Regions from separate parts of the Homo sapiens genome. Here region 1 is linked to region 2. Evidence: fine-mapped expression QTL. Tissue or cell type: whole blood. Region 2 holds a variant in brackets; the other region holds the start of a gene. All regions are shown on one strand. Distances are between the middles of the regions.

Evidence for each region. PIP is the estimated chance that this variant, and not a neighbour inherited with it, causes the effect.
Region 1: it holds the start of ZC3H18, and the variant in region 2 is fine-mapped to the expression of ZC3H18 in whole blood (TOPMed, PIP 0.97).

Annotation. Positions count from the first base shown.
Region 1 is chr16:88,566,119-88,574,190 of GRCh38, forward strand. ZC3H18 (zinc finger CCCH-type containing 18) reads left to right here and starts at 4,285. Exons shown (of 18, transcript NM_144604.4): 1 at 4,285-4,448. RefSeq lists enhancers at 3,466-3,575, 3,686-3,735, 4,826-4,875 and silencers at 3,976-4,305, 4,486-4,555.
Region 2 is chr16:88,601,843-88,609,921 of GRCh38, forward strand. It overlaps ZC3H18 (zinc finger CCCH-type containing 18), which reads left to right. Exons shown (of 18, transcript NM_144604.4): 7 at 7,092-7,209. Among named protein-coding and RNA genes, the nearest start is that of IL17C, 33 kb to the right of the region's middle. RefSeq lists an enhancer at 5,309-5,809. The variant A/C (reference allele first, on the strand shown) is at 3,767.

The DNA of each region.
Region 1 (8,072 bases), 36 kb before region 2:
CCAACATGGTGAAACCCTGTCTCTACTAAAAATACAAAAATTAGCCAGGCATGATGTCCCATGCCTGCAGCCCCAGCTACTCAGGAGATTGAAGCAGAAGAATTGCTTGAGCCCAGGAGACAGAGGTTGTGGTGAGCCGAGATCAGGCCACTGCACTCTAATGTGGGTGACAGAGGGAGACTCCGTCTCAGGAAAAGAAAAAAAAGACACACCCACCAGTGTTCTGTGTCAGTTTACCATCGCCATGGCAACACTCCCACCCCTTTCCATGGCAATGACTCAGTGACCCAGAAGTGACTACTCCTTCCCCAGAAATTTCTGCATAAACTGCCCCTTAATCTGCATGTAATTAAAAGTGGGTATAATGGGTCTGCAGAAGTGCGTTGAGCTGCTGCTCTCTGCCTTCTGGGCAGCCCAGCTCTGCAGGAGCCGTCACGGACCTGCCACACTGCCTCTTCAATCAAGTTGTTCTCTTCTACCTCCGGCTTGTCCTTGAATTCTTTCTTGGGCAAAGCCAAGAACGCTGGCAGGCTAAGCTCCACTTTGGGCCTCACCTGCCCTGCATCACAACCAACCAGCCCGTATCGGGACACGATCATTGACTTAAGTCCACAGTTTACATTACAGTTCACTCTTGGCGTTGTGCGTTATGTGGGTTTTGGCAAATACGTAACGTCCCATAGCTGCCATTATGGGACATTACATATTTGTACTTCTTCATACAGAAGAGTTTTGCCACCCCAGAAATGAGGCTTAAAAGTCATTTACCCACTTCCTGCTCTGGAAGAGGAGGGTCTGTGCTCTCACCGCCTGGCACGCCGTGTTCCATCCAGCCTCTGCTCTCTGAATGGTTTTTAGGCTAAATAAAATGTTTACTAAATATTTTTAAGCACTAATAACAATAACGGCCTTATGCAGTGGCTCACACCTGTAATCCCAGCACTTTGGAAGGCCAAGGTGGGAGGATCGCTTGAGGCCCAGAGTTTGAGACCAGCCTGGGCAACAGAGTGAGACCCCCACCTCTACAAGACCCCCACCTCTACGAAATGAACAAATAAACAAACATGATGGACTCCAGCTTAAAAACAGAACATCCCAACCAGGTCACGCTACTGACTATCAGCCCCCACCGCAGGCTCCGTGGCACTGCCTCCTGGTCACTGCTCCTGGGGCCCCCATCACCGCAGATTCGGCTGCCTGTAATGAGTCGCAGCAACACGAGCCGAAGCATTTGTGTCTGGTTTCTTCTGCGCAACATCCTGCCTCTGAGATCCATGTTGCTTGTAGGGGTAGCGTGTCCTTTTCGTTCCTGTACGATATTCCATTGCATGGGGGTTACACCCCAGCTGGTTCATCGTTCTGTCACTGAAGCACCTTGGGGTTCCTTCTAGTCCGGAGTGTAACGAGTCATGCTGGGGTGAACGATCTTGGATGTGCCTTTTGCTGGACGTAGCAGCTCATCTCTTCCGGGAAGTCACAGAGGAGTAGCACGGCCCAGGTGCCGCCGCACGAAGGCTGCGGTTCCGTGAGCGCCGTCGCAGGCTTCTGGAGCGGGGCCACCATTTTCACTCGAGCACAGGCCGCAGGCTCTGGGTGCCCCACACCCTCAGCAAAACCGCTCATGATTTCAATTTGATAGAAACGTGGACCGGGCGCAGTGGCTCACGCCTGTAATCCCAACACTTTGGGAGGCCGAGGCGGGAGGATCACGAGGTCAGAAGATCGAGACCGTCCTGGCTAACACGGTGAAACCCCGTCTCCACTAAAAATACAAAAAAATTAGCCGGGCGTGGTGGCGGGCGCCTGTAGTCCCAGCTACTCGGGAGGCTGAGGCAGGAGAATCGCTTGAACCCAGGGGGCGGAGGTGGCAGGGAGCCGAGATGGCGCTACTGCACTCCAGCCTGGGCGACAGAGTGAGACTCTGTCTCAAAAAAAAAAAAAAAGAAAGAAAGAAAGAAAAGAAATGTGCCCACCCTGTCTGCTTCTGCACTTGCCTTTGTCATGCAACCTCACAGATGGTCTTCACCCGTTTATTTATATCTGTGTATACACACTGGAGGTTCATGCGTTAGCATTTTTAACAACCGCGATGTTGCAAATGTTGTACCAGATTACTATTACAACAGTACAATCATCTGCTCATCAACATCTGGGTGGTTTTCTGGTTTTTTCCTTTGTTCTTTTTTTTTCTTGAGACGGAGTCTCGCTCTGTTGCCCAGGCTGGAGTGCAGTGGCATGATCTGGGCTCACTGCAAACTCCGCCTCCCGGGTTCATGCCATTCTCCTGCCTCAGCCTCCCGAGTAGCTGGGACTACAGGCGCCCGCCACCACGCCCGGCTAATTTTTTGTATTTTTAGTAGAGACGGGGTTTCACTGTGTTAGCCAGCATGGTCTCGATCTCCTGACCTCGCGATCTGCCCGCCTCGACCTCCCAAAGTGCTGGGATTACAGGCATGAGCCACCGTGCCCGGCTCCTTTGTTCTTTTAGTTATGACTACTAACAGACCTGCTATGTCCTTGTTCATGTCTCATGCCCACGGGCAGATGACACCCCAGTCCGGTGGCCCACCTGTACCACTGGGCATCAGAATCCCCTGAGAGCTCTTCATGGACCACAGGGCCCTGGGACCTCACTCCCAGTCACTGGTGCGGCCACTCTGGGGCAGAGCCCAGGAAGGCACATTGCTAACAACCCCTAGTGATACTGAGGCTGCTTGCCCGGGTCCCACTTGGAGAACCCTGTCGAGGGTGGCACTGCTGGTCACAGGGCACTTCTTTTAACTAACATTGTTTTCCAAAGAGGCTGTGACCAACAGAGTTTACTGTTCATGAAACTCAGATCGCAGACAGGCACGTGTCTGTCACAGCCGGTGCCGGCCGCTCCTTTCCATGGACAGTAACGTCCATGCAGGCTTATGTTCATCAGCTGAGAAAAGGGCACTTGCTGGGTGGGACCTTGTCTTATCGACACATAGAGTCTGCAGAAGGTGCCAACTGGTGTCGCAGGGCTGCTCCTGACACGACCCAAAATCACCAGGGTTGAATTCACATTCCTCTTACGTAACCATAACAAGTTGCTGGGACTACAGGCACGCACCACGGTGCCCTGTTAATTTTTTTGTAGAGACAGGGGTCTTGCTTTGTTGCCCAGGCTGGTCTCAAACTCCTGGAGGAGGTGGTCCTCCCACCTTGGACTCCCAAAGTGCTAGGATTACAGGTGTGAGCCACAGTGCCAGGCCTGTGGTACCTCTTCCAAGGACACTAATCCTATCAGATCAGGACCCCACCCTTATAATCTCATTTAACCTTAATTACTTCTCTAAAGGCCCTTTCTGCAAACACAGTCACATTGGGGATTAAGGCTTCACATACAAATGTTAGGGGGACAGAACTCGGTCCATAGCATGGAGTCGCACAGGTTTTGTCCTTTTGCGATTGGCTTGCTTTACTTAGTATGTTTCCAAGGTTCACCCATGTTGTGGCATGGGTCTGAACTTCACTCTTCTTGATGACTGACTCACACTCCACTGCATGGACAGCCAGCATTTTGTCTGTTCCTCAGTTTGTGGACATCTCGCCCCCTTGTTTCCACCTTGGGGATATGGAGGAAGATGGGATGAGCGAAGCCCTGTGATCCCCAGGACCAGCCACGTCGTTGGCAAGGGTCAGCGCAGGATGAAACCGCCGGCCCCTGGTCTCCGGCCGGGCCCTCCGTCTCTAGAGCAGCTCGCACCGCTGCAGCCCCTGGACGCCCCGGGCTGTGGACGCGCCCGTGGGACACCGCGCTGAGCAGGACACGCGACAGGTCCCCTCACTGGCGCTGCTCGCGTTGAACCGCGCGGGGAGCCAGGCAGCCCACGGGAAAGGTAAGAATTGTTAGGCTTTTAATCTAAAGTCGATACCTCAAAAAATAATTCCGGAGGTAAGCATTTAATATCAACATTCAATAAAGCAGGAAGTATCAGCCCGACGAAGACCGCCTTAAGTTTTCCACTTTGATGAACTCGATCATCCCCGGGGATGAAGAACCCGCCGGCCCAGCCGGAGCCCCGTCACGTGACCCGGCGGCCGCGGGGAGCTCTGTGCGCAGGCGCGGATCCGCACGCCCGCCGCCTGAGAAGCGAACTCCCCGTGGCGCCTGCGCTGTAGCGGGGGTTCGGCTGGCTCGCGCGGGTCCGGGCGCGCGCTGCGGGGGCGGAACCGCGCGGAGGCCGGAAGGAAGCTGGAGGGGGCGGGGCGAGGGAGGGAAGCCCGCCGGCCGTAGGACTACCGTCGCGGCCTGATGACGTCGCACAATGGCCGGCCCCCGCGGGTAGTGGAGCCCGTTTGTTCCGCCCGTGTCGAGCCTGGAGCCAGAACCTGTGAAGAGCGGAAGGGCCAAGGGACGTCTTCTCCACGCCGCTCCGACTCCAGGGGAGCCGTGGCCTCCTCTCCGCCCTAGCGCTGAGGTTAGCTGGGGCCGGGAGGGCGGCGGGAGGCCGGGCCGGCGGCGGCGGGAGGAGGAGGCCGCCGAGGCGGCGGCGGCGGCCGCGGGAGGGAGGCCCGGGAGCCCGGCGCGCCTCCGGCCGTGCGGACCCACCGGCCGAAGCGTGGCCCTCGGGCCCAGGGAAGGGGACCTTGAGACAGGCACCACCCCGAGTTCCGTCCGTAAGCCGGCCCCGCGGTCCTGGGGCGCCCTGGGCGCCCGAGCTCCTCGCGCGCTGCCTCCGCGCCCCGCGGCAGAGTTTATTTTCCTGAAGCTGTCATTTCTCTTCCGGGCCACTCGCGTGGCACATGTGTGCCGCCGGCTAAGGGGCGGTGAGAGGCGCCCAGATTCACCTCCAGAGTAGGTCATCCCGGGCTGCTGCTGGGCTCTTCGGAGAACTTTGAGCTCTTTATGAACCTCCTGGAACTTGCTCCGCAGCTTCAAAGTGTGCACAGGTTGGGCGCAGTGATTGCCCCAAGACGCGCGCCGGTCTCTTAGGAGTATGTAACTTCCTTGCCCCTTGGATTAGGAGATCAGAGGTGCTGGGTCCTTTATATAGACCAACTGCAGCTATAATGCTGGAAGAACTGAAACTTAACAGCCTTACTCCTGCCAAACATTTTTCCTGAATACTTTATGACAACTGAGTTTGCCGGGTAGAGTGGCCGTTTTAAATGAGCTTTGTTCGAACAACGCTAACTCATTTGCAAGAGTAGGTCATTCTTCAGACCCATTTGGGAAAATGGAAGAAGAGAGTGTTTGGCATCTGAAGTACCGTTTGGGGTGTAGCAAGGTGCTCATCATGTCTCCTGTTAGACTCACCTCCAGCCTGTTGTCTGTAGAGTAGTCCTTTCCCGTTCAGTAGTTGGGATTATCCGGGTGAGGTTTGACCTCGGCTGAATCCCGCTTCCCAGCTTTGGGAGGAGAGTCTTTTCCTGATAATTTTACTATCTAAGGGCAGTATGGAGCCCAGCCAGCCCTGGAACCAGTCAAATGTGTCCCAAAGCCGGAAACTCCTCTCCCGTTGTAGGTGGGACATGCTGAAATATTGTAAGAAAGCTTTGTGGAGTCACTCCAGAAAGCAAACAGGTAAGTTAACCTATGGCCTACATCGTGTTTACAGAGATTTGTATTTTGTCACAGCTACAGAGCATCTCAAGGTGAGTACCTCTTTATCAAGGAGTTTAGTGGTCACGCTTGGTCACTTTGCACGTGGGGTCTGTCACCAACCTTGATAACGTTCATTTAGATATTTTAAGTCCATGAGGTTATGAGTCAGAATTTTAACCAGATGTACCAGAACTTAGGCATTCAAATAGGTACTGCTCTGTTGAAAGTAATTGTCCCAAAATGTGCTTGTATTTCATCGGTGCTTCTTTGCCAGAATCTCTTTAGAACTCCTGTTGTGGTAGTAAAAATGTAGTCATATGGGAAAATCAGTCTTATTCAATAGTCACCCTCCAGGTTTGACCAAAAGTTTACTTACGTGGTTGGTAGCTCACCTTATCAGGTGAGACTCTGACTTGCAGCACTTTATCAAAGTGACTAGCTTGAGAGGAGGAAGATTTGCCACCACTAAGAATACCAGAAGACTTCTTTAGGCTTGGAAGGTCATTCGCAATGAGAAGGTCCCCAAACGCTCTGCATTTCAGCAGTGCCGTTGGAGTCTGTGCATCCTCCCAGAGGGGCTGCTCGGAAGGGAGGTAGCACCTGCTCTTTATTATTACTATTATTTTTTGAGACGGAGTCTCACTCTGTTGCCCAGGCTGGAGTGCAGTGGCAGGATCTCGGCTCACCGCAACCTCCTCCTCCTGGGCACTTATTTTAAATTCCTTTCTGGTAGGCAACAGGTAGTTCCTCAATTAACGAGTTTTTTGTCATGTATTCAACAAATATCTATCAAGTATCATCTGCCAAATGCAGAAAGCAACGGAGACGGGACGATGGGCACTTGTTATTTCATTCCTTAGGCAAGTTCACCCATCTGGTGGATCAGAGGACTAAGGATTTAGTTCTAAATTGTGCTGAAAATCTTCAGTTATAGATAGTGTAAGAAGACCAAACTGAGCACAAATTGCAAACGTGGGTATCAGTTGAGACTCTTCTACTGACACCCCTGTCTACACTTCTCATTTCATTGTCTACACTTAAGAGGCCACGTTTCCCTTCGTAGCACCTTATTACTATTTTTTGAAACGGAGTCTCACTCTGCTACCCAGGCTGGAGTGCAGTGGCATGATCTCGGCTCACTGCAACCTCCTCCTCCTGGGTTCAAGTGATTCTCCTGCCTCAGCCTCCTGAGTAGCTGGGACTACAGGCACGTGCCACCATGCCCAGCTAATTTTTGTATTTTTAGTAGAGACAGGGGTTTCACTGTGTTGGCCAAGGTGATCTCGAACTCCCAACCTCGTGATCCTCCCGCTTCAGCCTCCCAAAGTGCTGGGATTACAGGCATGAGCCACCACACCCAGCCAATTGTGTGATTTTTAAAACTAGTTTGAGGAGACATTTAGTTTTGCATAAAAGTTGGTTTATTTAAGAGATCACTTTGTTTCCAAGGTTGACATTAAACTATAAAACATGAGAATCAGAATTTGTCATATTTCAGGTCTGGGTTCAGCTTGGGGCATCCTACTGGGCACCAGGCGCTCCGCTTAGGCAGCTGGGGAGATGTGAACTACCTGCCCTTCTATGAGGAAGATGTTTATACATTGTAATAAAAAGTGTACGAAGATAGTATAGGGTGTTACTAATGTCGATAGCTAGGCAAGAGAGAGAATTGCCAGTTTGCCACCGGTGACTTACTGCCACAACCCCACGCAGACTCCCAGTCTTGAACAGTCAGTGCGTAGAGGCCTTAGCAGCCTTGGTGCTTTTCATCCTTGCTTTTGTTGCCTTGGGCTGCAGAAATGCTCTGTGCATCAAGCGCCCCTGTGATACTGTTTGGGGATCAGCTCCTTGACTTTCCCATTTTCAGCAGTGTATACCAGTTTAGGACTACCTTTAATAAAAAGACGAGGGTCTTACCATGTTATCTAGGCTGGACTCGAACTCTTGGGCTCGAGTGATTCTCCCACCTCAACCACACAAGTAGCCGGGATTCCAGGTACATGCCACCACTCCTGGCTTAGGACTGACTTTTTAATAATTCCTCCCAGTAGTCCTGTCTCTGGATAGTAACCGAATAGTGTACTTAGAAAACCAAAAAGTGAATCATTTTCAGAACTGTCTGCTTTTAAGTGACTTGGAATGGATTGGTTGGTTTGTAAATCTATGTTATTGCTAACCATTTAGGTTTTTTTTTTTGAGACGGAGTTTTGCTCTTTTTGCCCATGCTGGAGAGCAATGACACAATCTTGGCTCACTGCAACCTCCGCCCCCCCGAGTTCAAGCAATTCTCCTGCCTCAGCCTCCCGAGCAGCTGGGATTACAGATGCCCACCACCATGCCCAGCTAATGTTTTGTATATTTAGTAGAGACAAGGTTTCACCATTTTGACCGGGCTTGTCCTGAACTCCTGACCTCAGGTGATCCACCCGCGTCAGTCTTCCAAAGTGCTGGGATTACAGGCGTGAGCCACCACCCTTGGCCCATTTAGTTTTTATAA
Region 2 (8,079 bases):
GTCAGGGTGCATGTGTCACAGTGGCGAGGTGCCCTGGCTGTTTCTGATAGACACAGTGGAAAGAACTGTCAGGGTTCTGCCAGGAGGGTGGAGACCCCCCTATGATTGTCACAAAGAGCATCTAAGGGAAGGGTGGGTCCACCAGGTAGGTTGCTACAGAGGAAAACAGTGAGTAGAGGGAGCCAGTACAGCTGGGCTGCTGAGACCCGGAGGGAAGGAAGGAGCTGCACTGCAAGTGCAGATGTCCTGGTGCGTGCTGTTGGCAGGAGTGGGTCCTCTTGTCACCCAGCCTTCTCGGTCCTACCTGTGCCCGCTGCAGGCAGGGCCTCACCTGGAACAGCTGGCAAAGCAGGTCGCAGCTTGTAGGGTGTGCAGGAGGGTGGCTGGCAGCCCAGTTGGCGGTCAGGCTCCAGGGCCTTAATGGCACAGAAGAGGCCAAGCCAGCAGCACTTATGTGTTGCAATCCTGCTGCATGACAGGCTTCGCATCCAGTGCTCCTGACCTGTTTTGGGTCACAGCAGGCCGAGGTCAGGGCCATGTCCCTGCCTCACAGGTGAGGAGAGTGCAACCTGGATTGATAGCTGTGACCTCCTGGTGTGGTGCCTTAACCTCAGCCACATCTGCCCCCAGCAGCATGTGAGAGGTCAGATTCTTAGCTCGACCCCAGGAAGACTGAGTCTGAAACTCCAGGGAGAGCCCAGGCCAGTGGTTTGTTTTTAACAAGCCCTCCAGGTAATTCTGATGCATATTAAAGTTTGAGAACCATTGATTGTAAGTAATTCCAGGGACACAAATTCTCTGAAGATACCATGTTATTTTATTTCCTAATGTCGAGAGTTTTCTGTTGGTTTTTTGAGATGAGGTCTTGCTATGTTGCTCAGGCTGGTCTCCAACTCCTGGACTCAAGCAATCCTCGCGCCTGAGCCTCCTAAGTTGCTGGGAATATAGACGTTAGCCACCTGATGTTGAGTTTTGCAAATAATTGTCACATAGAAGCACCTTCATGCAGGCAGGCTTTGCTTACTACAGGATGGAGCTCTAGGCACTTCATTGTAGAACCAGTGGAATATGAGGACTTTTCGAGAAGTCTTGAGGACATAAAGGACAAGAAAATTGTTGTTCCTTCTTTTTTTTTTTTTTGAGACGGAGTCTCGCTCTGTCACCCAGGCTGGAGTGTAGTGGTGCCATCTTGGCTCACTGTAAGCTCCGCCTCCTGGGTTCACGCCATTCTCCTGCCTCAGCCTCCCGAGTAGCTGGGACTACAGGCGCCCGCCACCACGCTCAGCCAATTTTTTGTATTTTTTAGTAGAGACAGGGTTTCACCATGTTAGCCAGGAATGGCCTCAATCTCTTGACCTCGTGATCTGCCTGCCTCGGCCTCCCAAAGTGCTGGGATGACAGGCGTGAGCCACCGCACCTGGCCTGTTTTTTCTTTATATCTCTTTTGGAATTAAAAACTGACCTAGCAGGATCACTTAGTAAACATAATACTTTGTGGCCGGGCACGGTGGCTCACGCCTGTAATCCCAGCACTTTGGGAGGCCAAAGCGGACGGATTGCCTGAGCTCAAGAGTTTGAGACCAGGCTGGGCAACACGGTGAAACCCCATCTCTACTAAAATACAGAAGAAATTAGCAGGGCGTGGCAGCATGCACCTGTAATCCCAGCTACTTGGGAGGCTGAGGCAGGAGAATTGCTCGAACCTGGGAGGCGGAGGTTGCCAGTGAGCCAAGATCATGCCCCTGCACTCCAGCCTGGGCAACAGAGCGAGACTCCGTCTCTTTTTTTTTTTTTTTTTGAGACGGAGTCTGGCTCTGTCGCCCAGCGTGGAGTGCAGTGGCGCAATCTGGGCTCACTGCAAGCTCTGCCTCCTGGGTTCACGCCATTCTTCTGCCTCAGCTTACCAAGTAGCTGGGACTACAGGTGCCTGCCACCATGCCCGGCTAATTTTTTTTTTTTTTTTTGTATTTTTAGTAGAGATGGGGTTTCACCATGTTAGCCAGGTTGGTCTCGATCTCCTGACCTTGTGATCCACCGGCCTTGGCCTCCCAAAGTGCTGGGATTACAGGCGTGAGCCACCGTGCCCAGCCCCATTTCTTAAAATAATAATAATAATAATACTTTGCTAGACAGACGCACTCTGATTCGCAGCTTTAAATATTCCGTTTCTACCACCTCAAGCACTTTGTTCAGGTACCATCTGACTTATAAAACCTCACATATTGGCTGGATACAGTAGCTAGTAATGTCTATAATCCTAGTGTTTTGGGAGGTCAAGGTTGGCAGATCAGTTGAGCTCGGGAGTTGAAGACCAGTCTGGACAACATGGCAAAACCCCATCTCTACAAAATATACAAAAATTAGTTGGGCATGGTGGCACGCACCTGTAGTCCCAGCTACTCAAGAGTCTGAGGTGGGAGAATCTCTTGAGCCCGAGAGGTGGAGGTTGCAGCAAGTGAGATCGTGCCACTGCACTCCAGCCTGGGTGACTGAGTGAGACTCTTTCTCCAAAAAAAAAAAAAAAAGTTCTCACATATGTAAGACATTAAGAAATGAAATGACGGCCGGGCACAGTGGCTCACGCCTGTAATCCCAGCACTCTGGGAGGCTGAGGCAGGCAGATCACAGGGTCAGGAGATTGAGACCGTTCTGGCTAACATGGTGAAACCCCATCTCTACTAAAAATACAAAAAATTAGCCAGGCGTGGTGGCGGACACCTGTAGTCCCAGCTACTCGGGAGGCTGAGGCAGGAGAATGGCGTGAACCCAGGAGGCGGAGCTTACAGTGAGCCGAGATGGCGCCACTGCACTCCAGCCTGGGCGACAGAGCAAGACTCCATCTCAAAGAAAAAAAAAGAAATGTCATCTCTGCATAGGGCTCCTGGGGATGCTGTGCCCAGAATATTCTACAAGTCTAATAGGGACATGTGACCCAAAAGACACAAGGGCCTCTAGTGCGCACAGGACGTCACCTGTGAGAAATGCGGTCATCAGTAGTAGCCCCACCGTGAACAGAGTTTCTGATTAAATCAGAGTCAGGCTGTCAGGCCATGGCCAGGGCCATGGACTGGGCCCCTGCCAACTCCCCATACGCCCCCAGCACAGAGAGTAGTGCAGTGCCGGTGTATTAGAGGCGGAGGTGCAGGCTGCTGTTCTTTGGAGTAGGATGTCAGGCTGGGATACAGAGGAAACAGAACAGTAATTTTCAAAAAGCACACTCCCTTTCCTCAGGTAACAGGTCTACCAGATGCTGGTCCAGCACCTCCTTTGTCCCAGATGCTTAACTGAGAGAGCACAAGTGGCTTTTACCTGGGATTTGCTGGTGCCCTGTGGGGAAGCCCCCTGAGTGAGCAGGGAGGGAGGGTTGGGCTACCTGGAGAGTAAGACAGGGCCTGCTCCACATGGGTAAGCCCACAGTCCCACAGACTCAGGGCAGATGGATGTATGGGTGCCCAGGCATTGCCTGTGGCCTCTGCATGCCTTTGGGGACCTCCTCCCCTGCCTGCACTTTCAGTGGCCAGCGTTGCAACAGGAACGTGGGCAACAGGCAGGTGGGCACCAGGTCGACCATGCTGGGTTGGGGTGAGGGCAAGAGGCAGCAGGGGGCTGCGTCGCTGCTCCCTTTGTGAGCTGCCTGGGACCCTCCTTTTCACCTTGGGTCTCTGCAGCAAGCAGGGACACGTGAGCATCTGACTCCCACCCTTTGCAGAGCACAGCCTCCCTCCACCTGGGTTGAGGTCAGCACGATTTCAACCTGAATTGTGCA[A/C]ATGCAAGTTGCATTTCATTGTGTAATATTGCATAACCCTTAGATTAAAAGTGAGTAGTGTTAGACATTTTAGAACTTTTTCCTAGTACTTTTTGAGATCCAGTTTCCTTGTCACTGAAATGAAATGGTTAAACAAAGTGATCTCGAAGCTCCAAACTTCTGTCTTACACGTTCTCTAATTGCTCGACTTTTCACCTGCCATGCCTCTCCCTGGGCAAGGCTGTGGGCAGAAACCACCTGCCCCTGATGGGCATGTCCAATGGTTCCCCTTAGCCAGGACCTCGGGTTCTCCTCTCCAGCGAGGAGTAGGTCCACTCCACGTGCCAGTGCTGAGTCTGACGCTGCCCAGACCTCTGGGGACGCGGGGCCTCTGGAGTGCAGATTCCACGTGTGTGCACAGGACACTGTTGGTGTTGGCTGGTTAAGTGGTGACTGCAGAACGAGGTGCGAGCCTCCCAGTTGCTGCGAGCCAGCTTTGCCCAACCTTGCTTCACCACAGAACCCTTTTCTCAAAAGGCCCATTAACATTTTGGGTTCCCTAAAACAGTTGGGGAAGAGTTTGTGCATACCATGATACTGCCCAGTAGCATTTATTTTTAAATTGAATTAAATACCTTCCAAATTCATTTCAAGAGTGTTTCAGAATTTTTCAGGATGGTGCTGAGGAGTCCGTTGTTGGCATGGTTGCAGTTCCTGGTGGCGTGTTGTGTTGACACGTTCTCTAGAACGCATGCTGCGGAGCAGATGGTTCCGAGGCAGCCACGCTGAGGAAATGCTGTGTGCCTCATTCCTATCCGCTCATCCACGACTTCCAGAAAGCCTGCAGGAAAGAGGCCTTTTCATTTTGCTTAAGTACAGTTTCCCAAAAACAAATTTGCCGGCACAGTCCTCTTGTCAGAGAACACACGCCTCACACATTTTGGGAAAGGCTTTTCTACCCTATTGGGCTTACGCAATCAGCCTCAGCCCACCGAGTAGTTGGGGGCCACAGCCATGCACCACCAGACCTGGCTGCTGATGTGTTTTTTGTAGAGACGGTGTCTCGCGTGCTGTCCAGGCTTCCTCTTCGTTTTTATGTAGCCTGATGTCATATTGCCACAGGTCTCTACAAATGTTTCCTGAGTGTTATAATTCAGTGTGATTTGAGTAGTGTGCACATTAGATTGAACGGTGTCCGACTGATGGGAACGGACTGAAGCTGTGTCCTTTGGGAGAGCCAGTTCTAGGCCATGTGGAGAGTTGAGGAGGCCTCGAGGGTGTTCGTAGCCACCCATCGCTGGAGCCACCTCAAGCCATGATGCCTCAGGTTCCCACCCAGTCTACCCGAAGCAGAGGGTTGGCTTGTGGCTGAGACATACCCTGGAGGGGCGTCCAGGGACCTCCTATTGCTAGTGTACACTTTGTTTCCTCTGCTCCACAGGAAAGGAGATGCAGAGTTGTGGGCCCCGCCAGGAGTTTAGAGCAGGCCCCCCCCAACCCTGTGCGCAGTGGGGAAGAGAGCCTGACCTTCCCAGCAGCTGGACAGTCGTCCCCTCCCTGTTCAATGAAGAATCCCCTCTGTCCCTGAGATGCCACCTCTCTGGGCGTGCCTGGGTCTGCCTCTGGACCTCCTGCCTCCTCCTTCTGGCCGCCGGTTTTCATGTGCTGCGATGGCACTGGCTTAATTATACAGGCTTTTTAGGATGTTTAATGTCTCAGAGGGCGTGTCTGGCGTGTCTTTTCATTTCCAGGGTTTTCTTGGCTGTTCTTGGGGTGCGATTTTTCATGTGAACTTGGGTGTCAGCTTGTCTGGCTCCTTAAAGAAGCTCATTGGTGTTTTTGCTGGGATTGTGTTAAATTTATCAGTCAGTGTAGGAAGGACTGACTTGTGGGCGATTCCGAGCTGCGCTCTCCCAGTGCAAGAGGCGTCTCCCCATTATTCATGCACGCTTTGTGTCAGGTTTCAAAACCCCCATTTATTCATGCACACTTTGTATCAGGCGTCTCCCCATTTATTCACACGCTTCATGTCTCTCAGGCGTCTCCCCATTTATTCACAGGCTTCATGTCACGTGTCTCCCCATTTATTCACACACGCTTCATGTCTCTCAGGCGTCTCCCCATTTATTCACACACACTTCATGTCTCTCAGGCATCTCCCCATTTATTCACACACACTTCATGTCTCTCAGGCATCTCCCCATTCACATGCTTCATGTCAGGCGTCTCCCCATTTATTCACGCACGCTTCATGTCTCTCAGGCGTCTCCCCACTTATTCACACACACTTTGTGTCTCTCAGGAATCAGCTCTGCACATTTCTGGTGAAATGTGTTGATATTTTATTCCTAAGTACTTTTTTCTTCTTTCTTGCTATTGTAAATGCGGTTTTCTCCACTCTGCCTCCTAACTGGTTATAATCTGTGTCTGTGAAGACACTGATTTCTATGTTAATTTTTTTATCCTCTGCCTTTCCAAGTTTCTTCATTGTTTGTTTGAATTGGCTTTATCAAGTCTCTGGGTTTTTCATGTATAGTATCATATCATTTTGCAAATCTGAGCTCGTTTTGCTCCTTGTTTTCGTGTTCTTGTGCCTCTAGTGGGCTCCCCTTGTCCAGTCAGGGGGTGCCTCCACACAGGGACAGGTGGTTGCGGAGACTCCTGGGGGAGCTCCTCCTATTCCCCAGTGAGTAAGGTGCTGACTTTTGTTCCAAAGTGTGTCAGTATATTTTTATCATGCTAAAGTATCACTTCCTATTTTCTTTCCTTTTTTTTTTTTCTTATTTAATTTTCAAGACGGAGTTTCACTCTTGTTGCCCAGGCCGGAGTGCAATGGCACAGTCTCGGCTCATGGCAACCTCCACCTCCTGGGTTCAAGTGATTCTCCTGCCTCAGCCTCCTGAGTAGCTGGGATTACAGGCATGTGCCACCACGCCCAACTAATTTTGTATTTTTAGTAGAGAAGGGGTTTCTCCATGTTGGTCAGGCTGCTCTCAAACTCCTGACCTCAGGTGATCCACCTGCCTCGGCCTCCCACGGTGCTGGGATTACAGGCATGAGCCACCACACCTGGCCCTCACTTCCTATTTTCTTGAGTATTTTTTATCAAAAAGGCTATTGAATTTTTGTTAGACATTTTTATCATCTGTGAATAGAACCCTTTGACTTCTGGCCTGCTCTTAGATGTAGTTTGTGAACAGATTTCCTAACCTTGAGCCAACCTTGCGCTCCTGGAGTAAACCCCACTGCGTCACGGTCTGTTACTTTCTGTCCCTAATGTTTCGTGTGGTCTTTTTACGCCAGTGCTCCTAAGTGATGAGAGTTCTTTTTCATTGGCCCTTTTCAGACTCGAGCCTTACGCAGACCCTTATTATGACTATGAAATTGAGCGGTTTTGGCGTGGCGGACAGTATGAGAATTTCAGGGTGCAGTATACAGAAACAGAGCCGTATCATAATTACCGAGTAAGTATGACTTCAATATCCACATATGAACTTCATGATCTGTTCATTCAAGTTATCCCTTTTTATTTACAGTAAAAAATACAGGGCTTTATATGAGCTTATAGAGCCAGCACAATGTACCAATTTGAAAACCAAATTGATTGTTACGGAGAACGAATTCAGAGGCAGCGATTACATTAATGGTCATTTGAACAAAGACTTGCCTGAAAACTGGTTCTTGCTATGGTTTTGTTTTTTTGTGTGGTGTTTGTTTGTTTGTTTTTTGAGATAGGGTCCCACTCTGTCACCCAGGCTGGAGTGCAGCGGTGCAATCTCGGCTCACTGCAACCTCTACCTCCTGGGTTCAAATGATTCTCCATCCTCAGCCTCCCGAGTAGCTGGGACCACACGCATGCACCACCATGCCCAGCTAATTTTTTTGTATTTTTTTTGTAGAGACGGGGTTTTACCATGTTGTCCAGGCTGGTTTTGAACTCCTGAGCTCAAGCAATCCGCCTGCTTTAGCCTCCCAGAGTGCTGGGATTAAAGACATGAGCCACTGCGCCCGGCCTGGGTTGTTTGTTTTGGAGACGGAGTTTAACTCTGTCACCCAGGCTGGAGTTCAGTGGCGTGATCTCACCTCACTGCAACCTCTGCCTCCCAGATTCAAGCAATTCTCCTGCCTCAGCCTCCTGAGTAGCTGGGATTACAGGTGCCCACCATCACACCTGGCTAATTTTTTGTATTTTTAGTAGAGACAGGGTTTTGCCGTGTTGGTCAGGCTGGTCTCAAACTTCCGATCTCAGGTGATCTGCCTATCTCAGCCTCCCAAAGTGCTGGGATTACAGGCATAAGTCACTGTGCCCAGCTCGGCCTGGTTTTGAAAATGAG